Linked DNA regions of Homo sapiens. The protein of the gene in region 1 interacts with the protein of each later gene in a biochemical or structural test. Each region holds a gene or a part of one and is shown on either strand. Other genes may lie near its edges.

Region 1 (3,657 bases):
TGAATATATATACACATATACGTATGAATATATATACCCATATACGTATGAATATACACATATATATACGTACGTATATATATACACATATATACGTACGTATATATATACACATATATACGTACGTATATATATACACATATATACGTACGAATATATATACACATATATACGTACGAATATATATACACATATATACGTACGAATATATATACACATATATACGTACGAATATATATACACATATATACGTACGAATATATATACACATATATACGTACGAATATATATACACATATATACGTACGAATATATATACACATATATACGTACGAATATATATACACATATATACGTACGAATATATATACACATATATACGTACGAATATATATACACATATATACGTACGAATATATATACACATATATTCGTACGAATATATATACACATATATTCGTACGAATATATATACACATATATTCGTACGAATATATATACACATATATTCGTACGAATATATATACATATATTCGTACGAATATACACATATATTCGTACGAATATATATACATATATTCGTACGAATATATATACATATATTCGTACGAATATATATACATATATATGTATAAAACTTTAAAAGATCCTTTTTCTTCATCAACATTCGTATGAGAACATCAGGAAAGTGCTTTTGATTTTCTCTTGGCAAGACATTTTCCTAGAGAAGTAGTCCACAGTCCCAACCATTAGCCCCAACTCTGAGGGACAGGAAGTCCCCATCCATGGCCAGGCAGACCCGGGTCCAAGCTCTCAGCATGGTCCCTTTTCTGAGCCAGGTCAAGTCCTTCCACCCGACTGGTCCTCAAATCCTCTACCTGCTAGATGGGCCATTGTGTGCCCAGCCTCCCTGGACGTTACAAGAGCAGTGGTGAGGAAAGCTAGCTCCCTGGCCCCCAGGCCGAGAGGAAAAGAATCCTGGATTAAGCCAGAGGCTGAGTTCTCTGGAGGTCTGGGGCACTGACGGGTTACTGGGTAGAGGGCCAGCTTAGGGGAGGGTGTGGTCTGAAGGTATGGGTAGGGCAAGACCTGACTCCACTCAGTGATGTGTCCCCAGTGAGGCATCCTCCCTAGAACCTGTAAGTAACAGGAAGACCCTACCCTGAACAGAGCTCTAGGGATGAGGGGAGGGTTTGAACCCCTGCTCGCAGGCCGAGGCCACCCCAGTGAAAGCTTGGCTGGACAATATCGCCCTACCGTGGAAATGTCGTTAAGGACTAAGTCCTTTAAAAAAAACTACTGGGAGAATTTTGTCTCAGGCCTAGAGCCTATAATCACTGGCTTCTCCCGGCCGTTAGTTTGATTTTGTCTTATGGATATGCGAAATTTTGAAACAATTGTTTTGTCTTTGCTTTGGCTACTGGGAAGCTCCCTATCATACTTATGACCCATCTCTCCCTCCTGTATAGAACTTTATCGTATTTGTTTCTGTGTAGCAACCCAACCAGTTGTACATTCTTTTTTTCACTGATCCTTCATCGACTTATTTTTTGTCCTTTGTATGTTTTTCCCAAAAGCGACATTGCATTATTTTTGGAAGGAAATAGCTATGAGTAAATAAACAAACGGCATTGTGAAGTTTGGGATTCACGTTCAGGCTCCCTCTGCCCAAACACGTTTACTGTTGTTGTTTTTAAGTTCACAGCATCTTGTGGAATTAGTAGGTAAGCGCTTTTCCACCTCACTTTATTTTTTAAAGTCAGTTTTTAGTTTTAATAATTTGCATATGCACATGGTTTCAGAGAATCAAAGGATTCCTGTTACAGAACCAGCAGCCTCCTGACACCCCACCCTCACTTCCTTTTCCTCACATGCGACTGCTCCTTGAAACTCTCTTAACTGCTTCTAAAAAATATGCTGGTGTCGCCACTTGAGGAGTTTTCAGTCTAGGGCATTTTCTATGGACTTCCCAGTGTGAAGATGAGGACAGTGTTCTCTTCCAAACACCCGCCCCACGCTCCCGCGAGGCTCATCTTCCCGCCCCAGTGTTTGATGACTTGGCCATCCGCGCTTACGTTATTTTGACCATGTATATGTTATTGAGAGTTGTACAATATAGTGTACTGGGGCTACTTTTCCTTTTTATTTTCCCTGAAGTCAGTCTCTCTGTCTCTCTTAGTTTTATCTCCCACCCCCATTTGACTGGTGGGGACCAGGGATCCCACTCAGGGACCTGTAGCACTGTCAGGTCCGACCCCTTCTTCCCCTGGGTCTCTGCCAGATAAGGCATCTGGCTCGCAGTCTCTATGCCCTCCACTTCTCCCTAAGGACACAGAGAACTCCTCTTTTCAGCTGGCAGCCCCAGTCCTGGAAACTTACCTGGAATGAGCCAAGGGCTAGTTCAAAAAACAGCTGGATCTCCATAGCGTCCTCTGGGGAGAAGGCGAAGACGATGTAGTGGATGCCAAAGAGGGGGATCAGCAGGAGAGTGGACCTGGCCAGGCGCCTGGGGACACAGAAAGCCTGTAGCCTCCACTCTGCCTCCCTGCGCCCTTTCTCCTCCTGTAGGCACACAGCTGTGCCACTCCCCAGCTCGGGACTGACTGCTGAGGCTGGCTAGCAGTACCCCAAACTTTTTTGTTTTCATTTTTTATTTTGAAAGTTTCTAACTCCCTCATATCCATCACTCAGATACAACAATTTTTGACTCATGGCAAAGCCCCAAACTTTCTGATCATGCACCTCCATCAGTAAAAAGAAAAAAAAACGGTACCTACACCATTAACTTTATTTATAAATTACGTGCCTATATCACTGCTGCTCTATGTCTAACATCATACAAGCAAAGCCGGCTTTCTCATTTGCTAGATAATAAATATCTGTAGGGACAAATTCTTGTATTTTCTTCCCAGATTAGGGTTGCCAAACTTAGCAAATAAAAATACAGAATCCCCAGTTAAATCTGAATTTCAGATAAACAATGGACACCATGTGGGGGTATAAATATTGAAAAACGATTTGTTGTTTATCCAAAATTCAAATGTAACTGGGCATCCTGTATTTTACCTGGCAACTTTATCCCAGGTCCCCAGGAATCTGACACCAAGTAATCTGAGGCACTGTCAGATTCTCAAAACACGAAACACCATGGAGAAGGTCTCTGGGGGACACTAATTTGTCCTGTTTTTGTTTTGTTTTTTTCTTCTTTTTGAGACAGAGTCTTGCTGTGTTGTGCAGGCAGGAGTGCAGTGGCGCAATCGCGGCTCACTGCAACCTCTGCCTCCCAGGTTCAAGTGATTCTCCTATCTCAGCCTCCCGAGTAGCTGAGATTACAGGCGCCCTCCACCACGCCTGGCTAATTTTTGTATTTTTAGCAAAGACGAGGTTTCACCATCTTGACCAGGCTGGTCTCGAACTCCTGACCTCAAGTGATCTGCCCACCTTGGCCTCCCAAAGTGCTGGGATTATTGGTGTGAGCCACCGCGCCTGGATGCTAATTTGTCTTTAATATAATTTATGGGCTGAATTATGTCCACACCCACTGCCAAATTTTTACACTGAAGTCCTAGCCCCCAGTATCTCAGAATGTGACTGCATTTGGAGAAAGGTCTTGAAAGAGGAGGCTAAGTTACAACAAGGATGGAGTGGGGCCTAATC
Region 2 (3,657 bases), on another chromosome or scaffold:
GGCCCAGGCTGGCCCTGGCTTGAGGTCTGCACACACAACGGGCCTCTCGAAGCAGCGGACAGACACTTGTTGGCTGCCAACTTGGGCCCAGACTGTGGTCACAAACACACCCCTCTGGCTGAGAACAGGATCAGGACATTTCTGCAAACCCCTGACCTAGTAGAAGAAATGTTCTAGGAGGCAGGTTGGGGTTGCTGAGGCTCAGCTGAGCCCCCAACTTAGGCCAGGGAAGTAAGGCTCTAGCTGACACCTGGAGTTTGCTGGTAATGCTTGTTCTCCCAGGACATCCTCAGGGGATTCACTATCCACTGAGCTGGAAAAATATCCAGTTGCCTTGCCAAGTTCACATCCAAAGGACAGGCCATCCTTCCATGGCCCCTTGGAGGCGTCCTCAGTAATGGGATGTGAGTGGGGAAATGTTGAACAATGTGGTCAGTGATTCAACTCCGGGGAAACCTAGGCCCAGAGAGGGTCCCAGGAACCCTGGCTGCTCCAGACTGGTGCAACTGCCAGGCCCAGACCTTCTCCACTCCCCAAAGTCTCAAGGACCAGCCACAGCCCAGCATCCTCCTATCCTTCAGACCTCTCTGATCACTCTTGCCATTCAGAGATTCCTGACTCCAGTGCCTTCCACCACTCCTCCTCCCCTCTTTGTGCTATCTTGAGTGGAATGACCTCCTTCCATGAGATCTTGGGCCAGGAGAATAGGTCGAAAAAGACTTCAACTAAGGAAAAGTGGGGAAAAACATGAAGGCCACATTCTTCTTTCTCTTACCCAGGCCATAGGCAGGGTTCACCAAGGAATGATCTCGTCCTGTGAAACATCTCAGAGAATATAAGAGCAGGGGCCCCTCAGTCCTGGGATGATACACATGTTACTTCTCTACTGCATCTGTAGTAGACATTGCTAATCAATTCCAGCTCCTTTCTGCTGAGCCCAGACAAAGCCTCCCAATCCTTCCAAATATGGAACTCACAGAACCACCAGTGGAGCTGACGCTTACACTCTTTTTTTTTTTTTTCCTACAGAGATGAAATCTCACTGTGTTGCCCAAGCTGGTCTCGAACTCCTGGGCTCAAGTGATCTGCCCACCTAAGCCTCCCAAAGTGTTGGGATTACAGGCGTAAGCCACCACGCCTGCCTGGAGCTGCCACTCTAAATAAAAGCTATTGATCACCTCTGATCTAGCCTAACTTCAATAGGAAAACTGAGTCCCCTAGAAGGCAAGGGTCTTACCCAAGGCCAAACAGAGATTTATTGCAGAGCAGACAGGATTTCAGGCACCAGCTTTTTTTTTTTTTTTTTTTTTTTTTTTGAGATGGATTCTTGCTCTTGTCGCCCAGGCTGGAGTGCAGCGGCACAATCACGGCTCACTGCAACCTCCGCCTCCCGTGTTCAAGATTTTCCTACCTCAGCCTCCTGAGTAGCTGGGATTACAGGCACGCGCCACCATGGCTCAGCTAATTTTTGTATTTTTAGTAGAGACGGGGTTTCGCCATGTTGGCCAGGCTGGTCTCAAACTCCTGGCCTCAGGTGATCCACCCGCCTCAGCCTCCCAAAGTGCTGGGATTACAGGCGTGAGTCACAGCACCTAGCCACCGGCTTTTAAAGAGTTTCTGTAGGCCAGGCATGGTGGCTCACGTCTGTAATCCCAGCACTTTGGGAGGCCCAGGCAGGCAGATCACTGAGGCCGGGAGTTCGAGACCAGCCTGGCCAACATGGCAAAACCCTGTCTCTACTAAAAATACAAAAATTAACCAGGCCGTGGTGGTGCACACCTGTAATTCCAGCTACAGAACTGAGGCAGAGAATCGCTTGAACCTGGGAGAAGGAGGTTGCAGTAAGCTGAGATCGCACTACTGCACTCCAGCCTGGGCAACAGAGTGAGACCCTGCCTCAAGAAAAAAACACAGTTTGTGTAGAGGAGATAGTGTTTATGTTTTGTCTACCCTACCACATGGTGAGCTCCTTCAGGAGAGGCCCTGGGTGTAGTTTAGCTTCTGACCTTAATATACACAGCAGGCACACAGTAGATGTCCATGAATGTCTCTTGGCTTAGTGAGGAGGAATGCATGACATGAGTTAGAGGGAAGGCTTGAGTATTCACTCCTAAAGTCAGAAGATGCTTCAAGGTCACACATTTACAGATACTACCTTCTCAAAACGACATACATGGGAACCCAGATAGATACATTTTTAATCTAAAGATGAGGAGGTGGGCCGGGCGCGGTGGCTCACGCGTGTAATCCCAGCACTTTGGGAGGCCGGGGCGGGCAGATCACAAGGTCAGGAGATCGAGACCATCCTGGCTAACACGGTGAAACCACATCTCTACTAATAATACAAAAAATTAGCCAGGCGTGGTGGCGGGCACCTGTAGTCCCAGCTACTTGGGAGGCTGAGCAGGAGAATGGCGTGAACCCGGGAGGCGGAGCTTGCAGTGAGCCGAGATCCCGCCACTGCACTCCAACCTGGGTGACAGAGCAAGACTCTGTCTCAAAAATATAAATAAATAAAAATAAAAAATAAAGATGAGGAGGTGAGGGGACCTCCGTGTGAATGTGGATTTGAATTGTGTCTATAGCAGAAATTTTACCATAGACTAAACTTTCAAACAACAGAAGCTAAAAGAGCTTTCAAGTCAACTAAAATATGACATTTCGATGAATGTCAGTGGTTTCAAACCGCATTGCTGACTATAAATATCAAAGTAATGAGGCATGTGGGGAAAGTCTCTTATATCCATATCATTTATGTGGCATTCTATTATTTAACTTTGCCATTAAAATATGATTGATACACTTAAGCTTCTAAGGATCAACACTCTAGAGTCAGCTTTTTTTAAGTATCAAAAAAATGCATCTAGACTGGGCACTGTGGCCTGCAATCCCAGCACTTTGGGAGACTTAGGTGGGAGGATCCCTTAAGCCCAGGAGTTGGAGACCAGCCCAGGCAACATGGTGAAACCCTGTCTCTACAAAAAATTGGCTAGGTGTGGTGGCTCACGCCTGTAATCCCAGCACTTTGGGAGGCCGAGGCAGGCAGATCACGAGGTCAGGAGTTCGAGACCAGCCTGGCCAATATGGTGAAACCCTGTCTCTACTAAAAATACAAAAAAAAAATTAGCCAGGCGTGGTAGTGCGCACCTGTAGTCCCAGCTACTCGGAAGGCTAAGGCAGAAGAATCGCTTGAACCTGGAAGGCGGAGGATGCAGTGAGCCAAGATCGCGCCACTGCTCCAGCCTGGGCGACAGAGTAAGACTCCATCTCAAAAAAAAAAAAAAAAAAAAGCTAGGCGCAGGGGCTCACACCTGTAATCCCAGCACTTTTGGAGGCTGAGGCAGGTGGATCACAAGCTCAGGAGTTTGAGACCAGCCTGGCCAATATGGTGAAACCTCATCTCTACTAAAAATAAAAAAATTAGCCGGGCATGGTGGTGGGTGCCTGTAATCCCAGCTACTCAGGAGGCGGAGGCAGAAGAATTGCTTGAACCCGGGAGACGGAGGTTGCAGTGAGCCGAGATCATGCCACTGCACTCCAGCCTGGGCAACAGAGTGAGACTCCATCTCAGAAAAAAAAAAAAATTAACCAGGTGTGGTGGCATGCATCTGTAGTCCCAGCCACTCAGGAGGTTGAGGTGGGAGGATTGTTTGAGCC
Region 3 (2,558 bases), on another chromosome or scaffold:
GAGATTCGCGCGGCCTCGCGCACACCCGCGGCTGGGAGCTCGGGACTGCGGTGACGGGAGGGGCAGTGTGGTGACCCACCCAGGATTTTTTTTTTTTTCCCGTGAAAGTCCTCAAGCCTGTCCTCTCCCTGGCCCGATCCTATTGCAGCGACAGAAAATCAGCAGCGGGCGGGTCTGTGTGGACCTGAGGGCCGCGTGGGGACCGAGGGGGGCTGTGGCCCAAAGAGTGGCAGTGAGTGGCGTCAAGGAACCCACACTCCGCATCTGCCACTCCTAGAGCCGGGACTAGCTCCCGATCCTAGCAGTTGCTCTCGAGATCATCCCGGGAGTTATTGGCGAGTTCTGGGCCTCTGGAGGTTTCCCTGTCAGCCTCCCCGGCCGCCGAGGGGGCGCGCGCCCAACAAGGGGGTCTCTAGCGGCCACCTGGGGACAGAAACAGTGACCCTGGGCGCGCACTTTGCCTCCCCGTTAGAGATGTCGCCCACGGGATCCTTAACGAGGCCTACCGCAAAGTGCTGGACCAGCTGTCCGCCGGGAAGCACCTGCAGTCGCTCGTGGCCCGGGGCGTGGGGTAAGAGTTTGTGGAAGGATTAACCTGCGCGCGCCGGGGTGGGTGCCTGTGCGGGGCGCGCGGGGCGGGCGGCGGTGGGTGCCCGTGGGGGCCAGGGTGAGTCTGCGCCCCTGGGTCTGGGGTGGGCATCCGCCACGGGTCGCAGTTGGAGATTTTGAAGTGGCACTTTAAATTTGCCCAGAGAGCTCTGGAAGAGGCAAAAAGGGAACGCGAGCCAGGGAGTTTGATCCGTTTTGAATGAAAAGAAAGAGAAACCAAACCAAACCTCTCAGTCATCCAAAACCTTCAGGCTTCCAGGGAGGTTTTGCTATAATTTTCTCTAAGCATGACTGTTTCTGGGGGAGGGGAAAGGGGTGGTTGTATTTACTGAAAATTCAAATCGAAATAATAAATGGCCAAATGTGGACACTTATGGACCCAAACAGTTTTGCTCACGCCAGAGAAACTGAGAGCACAGGGCTTGTGTGAAGCCTATCTCGGCAGAAGGCAACATTCTAATAAAGCCCGTGGGAAAACAGATTACATTTTCGCCATGAATAAGTCATGCAGTGAAAAATATTGCCTACAGCCTGTCGACTTATATTATTATCACGTTTTTCAACTCGGCGTGAGGAGGGAGAGGAGTGTTCATATTTGACTAGGAATTGCAGGATCGATGCAAACTCCAGGGCAGCAGCCAGACTGGCATATGTAGGGCTCTCCGGTTACTTTCTCTGTATGTCGCGGGTGAGAGGAACAGCGAGGACAATTTAGCGCAAACACACGAAGGGTCGGATCTCAAGGGGGCAGCGCTGGGAGAAAGGTTAGGCTTGAAGCGCGCGTCGCCTGCCCGGATCTTATCCCGGGCCCCCTCCGCAGGGTTTGGTGCCAGGAGATCCTGCGTGGGGAGGGGGGCATCGAGGGGCTGCCGTCTCGGCCCTCCCCACGGCTGCTTCCAGGCAGAGGCGGGCGACGCGGTGGGCAGTGCGAGCCCCGGGCCCTCCCCGAAGGCTCCCGCGTGGGGTGGGGCCCGCCTGCTCCCCGCGGCGATTGAACCTGTGTCTCCCGCCCCGCCACCCTCTTCCCGACCCCTTTGCTTGCAGTGGGAGCCTCGGCGGCGGCGCGGGGGACGACGCGGAGCCGCTCTCCAAGCGCCACTCGGACGGGATCTTCACGGACAGCTACAGCCGCTACCGGAAACAAATGGCTGTCAAGAAATACTTGGCGGCCGTCCTAGGGAAGAGGTATAAACAAAGGGTTAAAAACAAAGGACGCCGAATAGCTTATTTGTAGCGATGGGTTACCAGCTACCCTGTGTATACAGCCCTGACGCAATGAAAAGTCGTTTTCCAAACTGACTCAACAGTCATCGCTCGTGTGTTCTATCCAAACATGTATTTATGTAATGAAGTAAAGCCATTAAATGAATATTTTGATAATAATATTGTTTTTCTTTCTACAAAGCACTAGAGAATGCACAGATATACTTTGTGGACCAATTATTGATATATATTATAAATATATATAAAGAATATATATATATATATATATATATATATATATAAAGTATAGAGAGAAGTTCATACAAAGCGTGCACAAGGATTGAAAATTCGCCCGAGCTGTTTATGTTTTTATAAAAATAAATAGAAAAGTAGACAATCATTGTTTTGAATATTACTCCTATTTTTGTAAACTGGAATTAAAAGGATAGTATTTTTATCCATGACAGGCCTGAAGATATTACTACTTACCATTTGCTACTGTACATAAACAATGATGCCCTGCTCCAGGGAGATTTTGAGGTAAAGATATGGAGAATTGCTGAAGGGCATTCTTTCCCAGTGAGTCTCTGGGGCAGGCTGCTTCAATCCCAGCCTAACTCAACTGGGCTCTGTCCCCCTGGTTGGGTGGCAATTCCAATATTTCTGCTTTCTTTGATTCTCCTTTTATGTGTAGTTGTCTCTCTTCAGACTCTCAGCCCAGAAGAAAATTCTCCTGATAAAACAAC

The links.
Region 2: the proteins of SCTR (region 1) and SNTA1 interact in a test that uses a peptide from one of them, tested with the Homo sapiens proteins (one study listed by BioGRID).
Region 3: the proteins of SCTR (region 1) and ADCYAP1 interact in a test that uses a peptide from one of them, tested with the Homo sapiens proteins (one study listed by BioGRID).

What each region holds. Positions count from the first base shown.
Region 1 is NC_000002.12:119,444,380-119,448,036, forward strand, and holds part of SCTR (secretin receptor precursor), read right to left. Parts: intron 2,507-3,657; coding exon 2,380-2,506; intron 1-2,379.
Region 2 is NC_000020.11:33,433,694-33,437,350, forward strand, and holds part of SNTA1 (alpha-1-syntrophin), read right to left. Parts: intron 1-3,657. UniProt on the Homo sapiens protein: Adapter protein that binds to and probably organizes the subcellular localization of a variety of membrane proteins. May link various receptors to the actin cytoskeleton and the extracellular matrix via the dystrophin glycoprotein complex.
Region 3 is NC_000018.10:907,793-910,350, forward strand, and holds part of ADCYAP1 (pituitary adenylate cyclase-activating polypeptide preproprotein), read left to right. Parts: intron 1-472; coding exon 473-571; intron 572-752; coding exon of another isoform or gene 753-798; exon of another isoform or gene 799-1,640; intron 1,641-1,653; coding exon 1,654-1,843; 3' UTR 1,844-2,558. UniProt on the Homo sapiens protein: PACAP is a neuropeptide involved in diverse array of physiological processes through activating the PACAP subfamily of class B1 G protein-coupled receptors: VIP receptor 1 (VIPR1), VIP receptor 2 (VIPR2), and PACAP type I receptor (ADCYAP1R1).